Homo sapiens: one gene and its partners. The protein of the gene in region 3 purifies or fractionates together with the protein of the main gene of each other region. This does not show direct contact. Each region holds a gene or a part of one and is shown on either strand. Other genes may lie near its edges.

Region 1 (3,500 bases), on a different chromosome or scaffold from region 3:
ACTAAAAATACAAAAAATTAGCCGAGTGTGGTGGCGGGCGCCTATAGTCCCAGCTACTCTGGAGGCTGAGGCAGCAGAATGGTTTGAACGCAGGAGGCGGAACTTGCGGTGAGCCGAGATTGTGCCACTGCACTCCAGCCTGGGTGGCAGAGTGAGACTCCATCTCAAAAAAAAAAAACGACCTAAAGTTAATAATAATCCCAACTATTTATCATTGTTATTTAAATAATAATGGTAAAACATTTTATCAATTAATATAGTGAAAATACAACTTATTACTTATTTATAAATTATTGCATATTATTGTCTCATTTAGTTCCTTCTGCAATCCTATGATTTGCAATTGAACAAACTGAAGCTAAGAGGGGTTAGAAAATAATACTCCTTGTAGGAGGTAAAGCCAGGATTCAAACTGAGGTCATCAGATTTCAAAGCTTGTTTTGTAAACCAGTAGATTCTACTTACAGCACTGCCAATTCTTCTCTAGGACAGTACCTTCTTTAGACTCTTTTAGATTGTACTGCTCATTTTACTAGACAGCTGAGAAGCCACTATAGCACACATTTTAATTAGTTGAGTTCTGGCTTAGAGACAGTCTCTATAATCCATCTCTCTATATATTACTATGAAGAAATTCAAAGTGAATAGCACCCTCCCAAAGTGGTGGCATACAGACTTTTGGGGGATACTTGGGAGGTATAGAGCCATGTCACAATTGACAGGAAAGGTGAAAACAATTGCAGCCTCAGTCAGACACTGGCAACTAGGGTGGCACAGAGAAATGCAAAACTGTGAAAATGAATCCTTAGCAAGTCATGTTAGTCTCTTTCTGCAGAAGACGAAAAAAGGTATGACAGGTATTTGGTATTTTAGGTATTGTGCTTATGCCATTAAAAAGTATATGAGGATCTTTGGAAAGATGGAAGAGGCAGCCTTGCTAGAGAAGTTTGCTCAATCTACGTGAAATCAGCACAAACCAATAACTAGACAACTTTGCCTGACAGATGCCTGCTTGAAAATTGGGAGACAGGAGAAAAGGAGAGAGAAAGAGGAGGTCCTTTATCTCATACAAAGATATGCCTTTGGTCTCTATGCTCATTACACTTGGCCATTTAAAATTAGTGGCTTATTCTCAATGATATTTCAAATACACTGTCTAAAAGCAATATGAAAAGTCCATGTTTTACTGCAGCATGTTTAAATAATCAAGGACAAGGTATAATGCATGTAGAATGAAGAGATGAAGGAAATGGAATGAATCAAACAGTTGAGCTTAGCTTATATAAGTGTGACAAAGTAAGGAAGTTTGGAAAGGGAAAGTTCAAAAATATTCATGTATAAAGTCAAAAGTATTATTTAAAGATCTGAGAAAATCAAGAGGCATAAAATGAATTAGGGATTTAGAGTGGCCAAATTTCGAACCTCATTTAACTTGTTATAAACCTGGTTTATGGATCATCTGCTGTTTTTTTTTTAATTTATTTTTATGGTGTGATATTTAAGAAAGTCTACCTACAGAAAAATATATATTATTTCCTACCTTTTTTTTTTCATTTGTACTCTGACCAAAGTTCACATTGTTAAGTAAGAAAACACATGTGCTTATTCTATTGTGAAATGTCTTAATCATAATTCATGTATTTCAAGGGCATTGCACCCAGGGCTTGATCAGATCTACAGATGGTTCTTGCATAGTGGGATCTGAAGGAGGCTCCACAGCTGTCTCCCACACTGGCCTACTATGGTGCCAACATTTCCACCCACCTGGCCAGAAATCACACCATTTGATTCAGTCCACTCCTTTGATTTATGTAATAAATGCATTTTCTACTATTAAAATGCACTTGCTGTGTGGGTTCAGAGAAAGGCCCTAGAATCACTACTGGCCTGCCCACATTAACATACATTGTCAAATTCACTCACTATCTTACTATGAGACAAATGTCTCCATTCTATAGCATAAAAGATACAAGAAAAATTGAATGTAAGAGAATCACAGATTATTGGACCTGGAACCGAGTAAGATTTCAGAGTTGATTTATCAATTTCCTTAGACAGTAGCCTACCCAATGCTGATGGCAAAATTGAGATGAGAAGCCAAGCAAGGTGTTTTCTATATCTGAGCTTATTAAACACTAATTATCATAAAGACTTACATAGCAAAGGCAAACTGGCTTTGCAAAGATAATTTAGAGGGGGCTTTGGAAAGATCAAGTAGGTCATGGCATGAAGGTAGGGACCAGGATAAATACAATAGACCTAAAGAAACCATTGTATACCACTCCAAGAGAAAGTCTGAAGACTACTGCGTAATTAAAATAAGAGCAAACTCTTGCACAGTCAATGCTTGCCTTGAATGAGATGGTGCTTTTAAGCCTAATGTTTGGTTTTTAACTTGAATTACCAATCCATTGCAATATGCATCAATTATTCTAACATTTTCATTGTCAAATGTTTGTATTACCTATTTCCCCCATAAACTCTATATGAATTATTACTTTATTGCTAAATGTATTTTAATGAAACAAATAACCAATTTCCTCAATCTTTGATTAGATTGATATTAAAAGATTAGCATGAAATTATCATAATGATGATAATTAAAGGCAAAGAAATATATATTAGTAATCTTTGTCACAAATAAATGTATAACTAATAAGGTTTTCTTAAAATATTTTTTAAATGGGGTAATTTCTAGTGTTACTTTCCAGGGACCTGTGGCATTCTACAGATTTGGAACTTTAAAATGGTGGATCTCATTCTACATTATTAGATTCCGGTGGTAAGAAATTATATTTATTCTTATGGTATATTCTTTTTCCTTAGCTAATAAGAGAATAAAACCTCATTCTACATTTGGCGGTAATGTGTTTTAGAATATAGCGTAAAGCTTGTTAAACAGGGAATTAATACACAGGCCCTTTGAATGAAATTGTATTCATCATACTACAGTACAGAAGGAAGATAACGCTTTTGTAAAATGTAAGTACATTTCACTTAAATTTTCTTGTTTCTGTTCCTTCTCTGCATTTGTGAAAATGTATTTTTATCATTAGCTATCCTAACTTATTCCTGGTTTGTTAGCATGACATTGGAATTTTACTTGTTATTGCACTAGAAATTATCTTCTAAACTTTACAATGAAAGTTAATCCCAAACACTTGCTGATAACTGCATTGTTTCACATAGGTTAAAATTCAAGAAAAATGTTTGAGGTAATAATAATTAGGAACTAGCACAGCATCCAAAATGGTATTTTAATGGAAAATCCAAATGAAAATCCAATACAAATCCTGATTAAAACCTAGCCAAGCAAAAAACTACAGATTACCTGGATTCCAATTAAATGTGACAAATGAATACTTGACAGGTTTCAATTCCAATTCTATTTATGTCAGAATGATCCATTAATACTGAAGATGAAATTACCAGAATTTAAGCAACACAATTGCACTTTATGGCTAGATGAGTAGTCTGAAAACACGGACCCAACAAATTTG
Region 2 (3,500 bases), on a different chromosome or scaffold from region 3:
AGTGCTGGGATTACAGGCGTGAGCGACCGCGCCCGGCCAGAAGTCATTTTTTAATGTGTGATTTTCATAAATCCTGAACCCCATCAAATAAGCCAGAGAGACTGTGGGTGATTCAAATGTCAGAGGCTGGGACTCTGGCAGAGTGAGCCCTGCCAGGGGTTTTTCCACGTATACCCCAAGACGCTAAGGCAGGGAAGACATGTGGCGATGCCCCTGGTTATTACATCAGAACTCCTCCTGAACTCCACCAACCACGTCAAGCAGTGATGGAACCACCACAACCTGGGCTGCGCAGAGGTCCCACACTGAGGCCGCCGTGGACATGTGGACAGCTCCTCCGAGGGTGACCCTCAGCCTCTGTGCACCCCAGGGTCTGTGTGAAAGACTGGGTGGAGGCATGAGGCTGTGCTCAGGGGCTTGGGGACCACACCCAAGACAGAAACCAGGGCTGAGCACGGTTGCTCATGCCTGTAATCCCAACACTTTGGGTGGCTGAAGCGGGTGGATCACCTGAGGTCAGGAGTTCGAGACCAGCCTGGCCAACATGGTGAAACCCTGTCTCTACCAAAAATACAAAAATTAGCCGGGCGTGGTGGCGGGCGCCTGTAATCCCAGCTACTTGGGAGGCTGAGGCAGGAGAATTGCTTGAACCCGGGAGGTGGAGGTTGCAGTGAGCCAAGATCGCACCACTGCACTCCAGCCTGGACAACAGAGCAAGACCCCATCTTAAAAAAAAAAAGAAATAAAGAAAAAGAAACCAGAAAGGAAACTTGTTTGTGGAGTCACGCATGGAGAACAAACGCCACTGGCCCAACTCTCAGGCTGGGACTCAAATCCCAGCAAGGGGACCCTGCCTGGTCTCTGGCGGCCTTATGCAGACTAGAAGGTTCCATGGGGGCCCTGCATGGACTGGAGGCCCTTTGTGGATGAGGAGGTCCCTGAGGGCTCCGTGGGGATGGGTGGGAGGGACAGGGTGTCCCCCATGGGCTCTGTGTGGACAGGCACTCCTCTGGGGGTCCTGTCTGGACGAAGAGGCCTGCAGCAGAGCCACAACGAAACTTCTGGAGCCCCCGAAAGCAGTTTCCAAATATCAGGCTGCGTGAGTCCCCTCTGCATTCACCCTAAAACGATACTGCTCAGGGGATGACAACTTCCACACACACAGCCAGAGGGTTGAGGCGGAGGTGTGGCCCTCTGAAAGCAGGACCTCAGAGCTGCGGGTGGGAGTGGACATGGGGGCCCACTGCCGGGCCCTGCCCCTTACAAGCTGTGCCTTTGGGCAAACGCCTTAGCTCTCTGTGCCTCTGTTTCCTTACCTGTCAAATGGGTGGACGATACTCCATCACAGGCTGCATGGAAGGGAGAGGGGCTGATGCAGGTGGGCCACTTAGAATCCCTTAGAAGCCACTTAGATCACACTACAGGCACTACCAGGATCACCAGCAAGGCTGTGACCTGCATGTTTCCTTCCAGAACACTCCCTAACGCTCGTCGTCAGTTTAGTCAGGCACTGCACCCGCCAGGGCTCACATTTGAGAAATGAGGATGGGGATCCTGGACACAACCGTCTTCCACGAACTGAGGTAGACGCCCAGCCCCACAGCACCCACCCACGGGCATCCGAGTGTCCCCGAGTGTCCCCGAGCCAGGGTGGCGGCCACCCGCCTACCTCGTGAAAGTCGGCGTCCTGCGTGGCTGCCAGGTCGAAGCCCTGCTGCCAGCTCTCGTGCTGAAGGACGTGGCCCAGCAGCTGGTAGGCCGTGCGCACGTCATTGCCAAAGAGCGTGCCCGTGTGCTGTGTAGCACTGCGCAGCGCCCTCACCAGCTGCAGGGCCCTGGCGCCGTCCACCTGCGTCTCATTGCGGCTCAGCTTCTCATTCTGGAACAGGGAGGCAGTCGTGATGTGTGCAAACCCACTTCGGCCGCTTTCAGTCCCTGCTGTTACTCAGCAACTCACTACTGTCTGGTGCAAGTTTCCTTGTCAGAAAGGAACTTTAAAAAATCCAAAAGCCTGGCTGGGCATGGTGGCTCACGCCTGTAATCCCAGCACTTTGGGAGGCCAAGGCGGGTAGATCATTTGAGGTCAGGAATTCAAGACCAGCCTGTCCAATATGGTGAAAACCCGTCTCTACTCTCTATTTTGAAAATACTCTACTCTATGTCTCTATTTTAAAAATAAAAAAATTAGCAGGGTGTGGTGGTGGGCACCTGTAAGTCCCAACTACCAGGGAGGCTGAGGCAGAATCGCTTGAATCCGGGAAGCAGAGGTTGCAGCAAGCTGAGACCGTGCCACTGTCCTCTAGCTTAGGAGATAGAGTGAGACTCCATCTCCAAAAAAAGAAACAAAAAACAAAAAGCCCAAAAATGAGCACTGCTGACAGCTAGACCATGGAAACGAGGGTCTGGTGGGCCAAAGAGGGCTCAGAGAAAGATAGCGAGTGGGAGACGTGGGAACAAAAGCCATGAAATAGGGCAGGATCAGAGGGCAAATGGAGTCAAATGCAGGGACCCCGTGTTTTCAGAACCAAAGACACAGAGCTGGGTCCTCTGGGGGAGAGAAGTCCACGTGGGGGTGCCTGGCTCAGGTGCCAACACCCCGAAGTCCACAGGAACCTGCTGGCTCCAGGCTGCGGGCCCGTGGGGCTGTCCCTGCGCCATCCCAGCCGCCCCAACACTCCCCAGCCCAGGAGCCTCGGCCCACACAAACTCTCTCACGCATACACGAACACACACGTGCCCCTGCTGAACACACATCCCCGAGGCGCCCCTACCATGGCCCTGAGGTCCACGAAGGAGATGGTGGTACAGTTAAAGAGCTCTGGGGGCAGCCAGCCCTTCTCCCCGCTGCAGTGTCGGACCGCATTTCCTGGGGAAGGAGAGCAGGTGTGCAAAGCCTGAAACTCAAACTGTTGATCAATGCTTGTGTATTTCAATCCACAATCTGAATATACTTAAACCCAGAACACTGCGTGGTGGTTAGAACCCCATGGGGGCCAGGAGGTCGACACCAGCGCCCCTCTTTCATGTCAGGGCCACGGCCGAAGCTGCTCTGACACTGACAACCAGGCGTTTCGGGAGCCCAGCCAACAGGAGCCAGCACTTCCGAGCAAGTCCGTGAGGAAAGAAATCAGCAACACCATCTGCCGGCAGCCACGATCCCATGCACCAGGAATCCATTTCGGCTGGGCCTTTCCTTGCCTCACTGGATTTTCCAGACGCCCCTCACAGAGTGGACACAGTCAATGTCCCCATTTCACAGAGGTAACCCGATGCTATGAACAGTGAAGCCACTTGTCCCGGTGCCCCAGCCTGAGCGGCAGAGCAGGGACTGGCCGGGCCTGACTGGCGGGCGTCCCCACACGCGCTGCACTGTTCATGTTTCTGTTGCGCCCTCTGCCTGCTTTGTGTATTTCCTGGTAGGGAAAAGGCGATCGGATTTCTCCCCAGCACTTTGCCTGCGGATATTTTTTCAACACGAAACATTCCATGAGTCCCCACAT
Region 3 (3,937 bases):
AACCAGAGCATGTGGAAATTAGCAACGAAATGGATTTTAATCTATCTGATGTGCATCCACTCTTTTCACTAAGAGCAAGGATGCCTGTGGAATTTATACGATTCATCCAGACTCTCACAAATTATGGTAGAGCTGGTACTAGAATCTGCTTCAGGGCTCAGCATACTTCACACAAACTGGTATTACAAATGCATTATGTGTTTGTTAAAAGCAGAAATTAGAAAAGAATCTGAAAATTGTTAGCTGTTGGTTATACACCAAACTAAGAAAATGCTGTCACGTTTGATGATTCAATATGGCTTTGACCCAATTTGTTTCTGTATCTGATAGTGTTTAAGTCTTGCAATCTGGCATTTGGGTCTGAACGACGTTTCAAAGAACATTTGCATTTGCACTGTGTTTTTAAAGTAGCACTAATGTTATCCCTCTATTATCAAAAGTATAATACTGTGTAAATGAGAAAGCACATAACTTTGCATCTTGCTGGATAACATACCTGCTTCTGGCATTTTACAGTGTTCCTCTTTAGGTATTATCTTCACCTTGACGCCGGAACCCAAATCCAGATTTATCCCCGGTGTTTGACTGATGCAGCTCTTGCAGATCACCTTCCATGTCGCGCACTTCAAAATACAAAGGTTATCGATTTAAGCATTCCAACATGAAATATAAATAAGGAAATGATAATATTCTCTTCCTTCGCGTTACGAAATAAAGCCTGAGCCAGGCGTAGTGGTTCATGCCTGTAATCTCAGCACTTTGGGAGGCCGAGGTCGCTTGAACCCAAGAGCTGGAGGTGGCAGTGAGCCAAGATCATGCCACAACAATCCACACTGCGTGACAGATGAGCCTCTGCCACATAATAAAAAAATGTACATTTCTATACACCAAATTAAATGGTTTCAAGTGATTTAGTAAGGACTGTATTTTCAAGCATACAAAATCCATCTCGAAGAACAAGAGAAGATTCATTATATCCAGGGACAGCATGAAGCTGCAAACTATACTCTCCCTTTTCCAGCCAACTTTGAGCAAATGTTTGGTATCTTTTCCTAATGTTCTCTTTGCTCCTGTTACTGCTCATGGCATAGGCCACAATGCACACATAGACCTTCTCCCGCCCCATAGACATACTTTCCCTTCCCAGCACCTGGGATCTCAGCTGTATCCTGATCTTCTTCTGTCTGCTGCCCAGGTGTAGGATCCCGACTTTCAGCTGCTGGTTCTTCTTTTTGGGGCTCTCCATTACTGGGCTCCTGGGACTGGCTGTGTGGTTCTGTGTTTGTGTGTGTCTAGATAAAAAGTTTTGTTATTAATACATGTCAATAATATAAATATACAGAATACACAGGTATGTCTTATTATAAGTATGTCTAGAGACATTTCTCCAACACTACCCCGTATACCTAATCTTCATAACACTATTCTTCCCTCAGAGAGGTTACTCAAAGACAGATATCCTCAGGGACTTTGGAAGCCGTTTTAATCAATGTTGGGATGAATGTGTGTAATCTGTTCTGAATAAGCATGAGGAGGAAGTTATGGACAAAATCTGGGCACACACGATCATCCACCCACACAAAACCCAAATATAACCCTCTGGACTAATCTTTCCTTCATGGGATGCCATGATCATTTTTTATCAGCATGGGAGACCATTATCAGTGTATCCATACTAGTCCATCAACACTATCAGAAAAATAACTTTCTGCTAAGAGAAAACATCGAATGTTAAGACATTCACAAGCAGAGGCACAATGAGCTCAGGAGGTTGTGAACTTCTTGGCATAGGCCTATATGTTGATCGTCCTCATCAACACATACTTCACTCTGCAAGCAGAATACTGCGATTGGGAAAATGCACTTGACAGGACAACTAGATTTGACCGCTTTCATGGTCAAATGTTAACTTGGACATTTTTTTTTTTTTTAATTTAGAAATACTCTGAAAGTCCCCGGGCAAGTATAAGTGTATGCACCTTTTGAATCGAATGCTTGCAAAGCCACTTAAGTAGGTCTAGCTAGCTGAGCGATGTCTTAAGGCTCCTGGCAAAAAACACAGGGCATTTCCCATGAGGTTGGTTTCACAACTGGACACTCCATCAGGGAGACAAGTAGGAAATTACAGCTACAGAACTGAAACTGCAGTGACCACCAATTTTGTCACATAATGATTTGCTAGGCCCACTTCCCCCCCACCCCAAAGTCACATTTTTAGGAACTCAGGGCCCCGCCCATTGGAATCTCCACAGTGGAGTTGAGAATTTGCTACACAGCAGTGGGCACTCCTCACAGGACCCCTATGCCAGGCACTCTACAGACCTCGGGGCTGCGGTCACTAGCCCGCAGCATGCCCCGTCTCCAGGACCCTTCCATACCGCTCATGCCGTCCCTCTCCTGGTCCCGTCTGGGGAGTCCAGAATCTTCTGTCGGGGTTCCAGGTGCTTCTGGGACTCGGATACCCCCAACAGCACCCCAGCTTCGCCTGAGCCCCTCCACTCCTCGGCCCTCCTTCCTCCCTAGTTATGGCCGTGACGAGACAAGAAGGTCCATGGGCGTGGCACCGCATGAGAGGGACGACGACTTCGAGGGCCTTCTCACTCTGAGTCACTGACCACACAACCCTCCGGAAGCCTGCTGGTTCCTCTTCACTCTCACTCACACTTCAACTCCCAGTTGGATCTGCCTGTGGACCTACCCGCCGTGTCTCAGTAGCGGAGAAAGAATCCAGACCTCAGGGACCCGAGTCGCCGGCTCACAGCTCCGCCGCGTTCCCCACACTGGCGAAGGGGCCGATGGGAAGACGCCCAGTGAACATGCGCACTGAGGTGGGCACCAAAGGAGCATGCGCAGTGAGGTTCCCTCGTGCCTTAAGGGCTGTGGTGCCCCTCCTTATCCCGCCTTGCCCTGTCCTATGCTCCTTCCCAGGTCCCCATTAACGACTTTGGAATCCCTCCTCTCTGTGTGTGGGTTCCCCCCCACCAGGACTCAAATACCTCAAATAAAGTCAGCCTTCAAAACTCACTCCATGACCGGGCGCGGTGGCTCACGCCTGTAATCCCAGCACTTTGGGGGGCGGAGGCGGGTGGATCATGTGGCCAAGAGATCGAGACCATCCTCGCCAACATGGTTAAAACCCGTCTCTACTGAAAAATACAAAAATTAGCTGGGTGTGGTTGTGCGCGCCTGTACTCCCAGCTACTCGGGAGGCTGAGGCAGGAGAATCACTTGAACCCGGGAGGCGGAGGTTACAGTGAGCCGAGATTGCGCCACTGCACTCCAGCCTGGTGACAGAGCAAGACTCCGTGAAAAAAAAAAAAAAACTCACTCCATGCTCACCTGACCCTCCTCCCCGCTATGGCCCTCCTTCGTCCCATGCCCGGGACCCCACAACAGCAAGGCCATGGCAGTATCGCTGAGTTTTAGTAGAAAGATGACGACCTCAGAGGCCATGGACCAAGTGGCACAACCCACAGGAAGCCCCCCACGCTCCCCCTCACACTCACTCACACTTCACTTTCTGGGAGGACTGATCTGCAGACCTACTGGCTAAGTCATAGTCAGCACGAAAGAAGGAAGTCACGACGTCTCCTTTCACAGTTGTGGAGGGACAGAAGTTAGAGAGCAAGGCGCATAGGCAGCAAGGAACTTTCATAGAAAGGGACATGCACATTGAGCCAGGGACTTTTCAGGGCAGGGTAGGGTTTTCCGCTGTTCCCAGACCCGCATCCCCATGGCGTTTGTAGTAGAAAAAGGGACTTGAGAGCTTTCGTCTCTCTTTGTCCAATCTCATGCATTCAGAAACGTTGGGAACAGACAGTCCCTTACTGGAGGATGTGTCTCAGGAAGACCTTTTGTGGAAGAAATAAATTATTTTCATATCTTTATTTATAAAGCCGTTTTTATTTATTTTTTTTTCCAGACAGAGTGTCACTCT
Region 4 (3,500 bases), on a different chromosome or scaffold from region 3:
CTGGGGACTGGACCCGGCAGCAGGAGCTGGCTCCAGGGCACCCTCCTCCCCAGCAGCGCGCTCAAGGACGATGCCGGAGTTCTGCATGGCCTGGTGCAGCAGGTTCTCACGGCTGCCCTCGCTGGAGCAGGGGAGCTCCTGGGAGACGGGGGGCTGCAGGGGAGGCAGAGAGAGGAGGCTGGCCAGGCAGCCTGGCATCCAGCACCCACCCCATGGGGCAGACGCACGCCAGGAGCCTTGTGCAAACCCTCAGACCCCCATGGCGCTCCCACTGGCCCTGCTCTCCCTGTGGGAAGCCCAGCCCTCGCCTGCCTGGCTCAGACCCCTGGAGCCAGTGCCCAGAACAAAGACTGGCACCGAGCAGGCAGAAGACAGAGCAGCCCTCCGGGGCCCCCCGTCGCCCCCACCTCTGGGGCCAGGGCTTTCATGCCCAGGGACAGCTCCTGCATCTGGACGTGGACTTCGTGGATGACGGTGCCCTTGGCATCTGTCACCAGGTGAATCACGGGTGAAGTCTCTATAGGCTCGCCTGTCACCGATGATGTGGCTGTCCCCAAGCCGGCAGCTCCAGCTCCAGAACCTTCAAGGTGGAGTGAGGGAGTGAAGATCCCTCACACACCCCAGTGGCGGCTGCGTCCACAGCCAGCCCCCAGGACCAGGCAGCTGCCCGCACCATGCTGACCTGCACGTGCGTCCTCTTTGCTGACAACCACGTCCTTGCTCACACTGAAGCGGATTTTCTCTGTGCAGGGGGTGAGAGACTTGAGGTGCCGGGTCAGTGCACCCGACTCCCGGAAGCTCTTTCCACACTTGGAGCACTTGTAGGGGCGCTCATCTGCAGAGAGAACCTAGTCAGCCCCGGGCAGCCCCAGCAGGCTGGCGACAAGGTGACAAGGCGAAGGCAGGCAGGGGCCCCCGCCTCATCCCCCAAAGCTGGGGAATGCGAGGCTGGGGCACCCCAGGGCCAACCATCGGGGTGCTACCGGGCTCCAGCCCGAGGTGCGGCCAGCTCACCCGTGTGCCGCCGGTGGTGCCGGATGAGTGAGCCCTTGGTGCGGAAGGAGGCCCCACAGAGCTTGCACTCGTGGTCCTTGCGGCTGCTGTGAGTGACCATGTGGGCCTTGAGGATGCTGCCCTGTGGGGGAGGGCGTGGCAGCTCAGGGCCCTCCTGGGGGAACAGGAGGGGGCCTGCCACCCACACACTGGCTCCCCGCACGCCGGCTCACCGTCTTGAAGGTCTTGTGGCACAGCGCACACACATAGCGGCCATCCTTGTTCACCAGTAGCTTCACCTGGGCCTGCTCACCCTCCCCTGCGAGCCCCAGCCCCTGCTGGCGGGGGCTGCCCGGGGCCTCGGCCATCTCACCGTCTCCCAGCTCCGCCTCAGCAGCCACGATGACCTCTTTGATGTGCCCACCACCTAGGAGAAGCATCTGGGCCTAAGCCCCAGGACCTGCCCCTGTCCAGAGACCCCAGAGACTGCTGGCTCCAGGGGAGGGGACCTGCTGCTCTGAGCCACACCCTGGACCCAACCTGCACTGAGCCCTCAACACACAGGTCCGAGCAACAGCCAAGGTCCCATTCACCTCTCCAGGTCAGAGTGAGAGGTGGAGAGACACCTCCCGACTCTGTCAGGCTGCCCAGAGATGCTCCAGGGCCCCTAAATGTGTCCACAGGGAGACCCACCATGGAGCACAGATGCCCCATCCCCAAAGCCAGGAGGACGTGCGAATCCTGGTGACAAGGTCCTTGGGTGAAGAGACAGCCGCCTGTCCTGCTCGCTGCCACTGCTCCTGCCACTGCTCCCACCAACATAGGGAGGATGTGCGTCCGGGGCCACTCTTCCATCGGAGGAGATGGGCTGGGCCACTGCAGCAGGGCAGGCAGGCCTGGCCAGAGCCCCGTCCCAAGGCAGGCTTGGCCTGGGAGAGTGAACGCTCTCCAGACACCCGGGACAGCCTGAGGCGAGGAAGCTGGGCTTTTGCACTTCTGGAGGATGCTGGGAAAAATCTGACAATGTGCAAAGCTAGGTTGTAAACACAGTTCAGGTTTTCTGCTCATAAAGATGACAAGTGGGAAACAGCTGTGAAGCCACTGCTTAGAAACCACCTCAGTCCGGCTGGCGTCTTGTTTTGACAAGCTGTTCTCTTGAAACACGACAAAAGCGTGGTGACTCAGAAACAATTAAGAGCCTCTCCTGCCCGAGCCCTTACACGCTCGATGCCCCAGGAGTGATCTTCCAAAGGACAGAGGCCTCTGATGGGGAGGACCTGGGGGAACATGGCTGCTGCGAGGCCAGAGGAGACGCGAACTTTTTCCGCGAAGCGGCAGGAGGGCCTGGAGGTGGGTTCCAACTGCCCACACAGCTGACCGCACCCCTGCACCCGCAAAGACAGGACCTGGCACGCCCCAGCCCTTGGCCACCAGCAGGCAGGACCCTCTGCCATCTCCACTAGAGGCCAACAGGAGAGCTAGCAGCCCTGGACTAAGCCCACCGGGCCTGCTGACTGGCCAAGGGCACACACAGAGTACCCAGGATGCCCGCAAAGGGGAAAATCCCAGGGGTGCCAGAGTGGCAGGGGTGCCAAGAGGGGCTGCTGAAGCACAGGGAGGGGTGCTGAGCCTAGGGCTGGAGGCTGCTAGAGTTTAGGTGGGTGGAAAGGGGCCTGGCTGGCCAGAGACCCAGCCCAGAGACCCCGCCAGAACCTAAGGAGTTCATGCTCCCAGGTGACGCCACCATCCCAGAAACCAAACGCCAGGTCAAGGCCAGAGCCCGCCCCACCTCCCACATGAACATTCCGAGCTCTGAGTGGCATTGATGAGTGTCTTGGTCGCAGGAATGCCAGGGAAAGGCAGCACGGAGGTGAGACAGGTGCCCTGGCTGCCTCCTGGAGAGCAGCCTGCTCACAGGTGCCCTTCCCAGGCCCCGGGTTGGCCTCCGCCACGGCTCCTCCACCCCCTCTTCCTGCTGCAGCCAGTCCCCAGGGCTGCCCAAGGCCAGGTTCCGCCTGGTGCCCAAACCTACTTCCTGTCCAGCTGCCCACTCCCCGCCTGCCTCAGCCCCGGTCCAGCAGGCTCCCCAGGCAGCAGCCATGCCCCGCCCCACCTCCCACAGCATCAGGTCCCTAGACAGCTCCTTCCCTCGCGTCTGCACACCTAGCCACTCGCCCCTGCCGCACCCCCAACCCCAGCAGCCCCTAGCTCCCTCAACCTGCCCAGGCCCTGGCTGCCTCTGAATGCCCCCCTGCACAAGCATCTGTCCCCGATGAGAGCCTGCCCATCCAGACCTCGCAACAGCCCCTCCCACAGCACATCAGGGAGAGAGACATCTTCACTTAAAAAGTAGCCATCAAAGAGTCCTGGCATTGCACGCTCATAAAAGCCCCATGAGGACCAGTGTAGCAATCACCACTCCCACACCAGAGGGAGCACTGGGGAGGGCAGGCCACGGCCAGCAGCAAGTCCGAGCCCAGCTAGAGAGGCGGGAGAGTCCCGTCCAC

What was found. Proteins that work in one complex are often made in the same cells at the same time.
Region 1: the proteins of XAGE1A (region 3) and PCDH7 purify together in Homo sapiens (affinity purification with mass spectrometry, with the first as the bait; one large-scale study listed by BioGRID). This does not show direct contact.
Region 2: the proteins of XAGE1A (region 3) and CELSR1 purify together in Homo sapiens (affinity purification with mass spectrometry, with the first as the bait; one large-scale study listed by BioGRID). This does not show direct contact.
Region 4: the proteins of XAGE1A (region 3) and E4F1 purify together in Homo sapiens (affinity purification with mass spectrometry, with the first as the bait; one large-scale study listed by BioGRID). This does not show direct contact.

Annotation. Positions count from the first base shown.
Region 1 is NC_000004.12:30,922,869-30,926,368, reverse strand, and holds part of PCDH7 (protocadherin-7 isoform d precursor), read right to left. Parts: intron 1-3,500.
Region 2 is NC_000022.11:46,387,621-46,391,120, forward strand, and holds part of CELSR1 (cadherin EGF LAG seven-pass G-type receptor 1 isoform 1 precursor), read right to left. Parts: intron 3,456-3,500; coding exon of another isoform or gene 3,223-3,455; exon of another isoform or gene 2,908-3,222; intron 2,867-2,907; coding exon 2,772-2,866; intron 1,880-2,771; coding exon 1,670-1,879; intron 1-1,669. UniProt on the Homo sapiens protein: Receptor that may have an important role in cell/cell signaling during nervous system formation.
Region 3 is NC_000023.11:52,494,671-52,498,607, reverse strand, and holds the start of XAGE1A (X antigen family member 1), read right to left. Parts: upstream 2,801-3,937; 5' UTR 2,699-2,800; exon of another isoform or gene 2,570-2,698; coding exon of another isoform or gene 2,379-2,569; intron 1,293-2,378; coding exon of another isoform or gene 1,247-1,292; coding exon 1,151-1,246; coding exon of another isoform or gene 1,135-1,150; intron 624-1,134; coding exon 497-623; intron 1-496.
Region 4 is NC_000016.10:2,230,091-2,233,590, reverse strand, and holds part of E4F1 (transcription factor E4F1), read right to left. Parts: intron 1,421-3,500; coding exon 1,227-1,420; intron 1,136-1,226; coding exon 1,015-1,135; intron 836-1,014; coding exon 683-835; intron 581-682; coding exon 408-580; intron 154-407; coding exon 1-153. UniProt on the Homo sapiens protein: May function as a transcriptional repressor. May also function as a ubiquitin ligase mediating ubiquitination of chromatin-associated TP53. Functions in cell survival and proliferation through control of the cell cycle.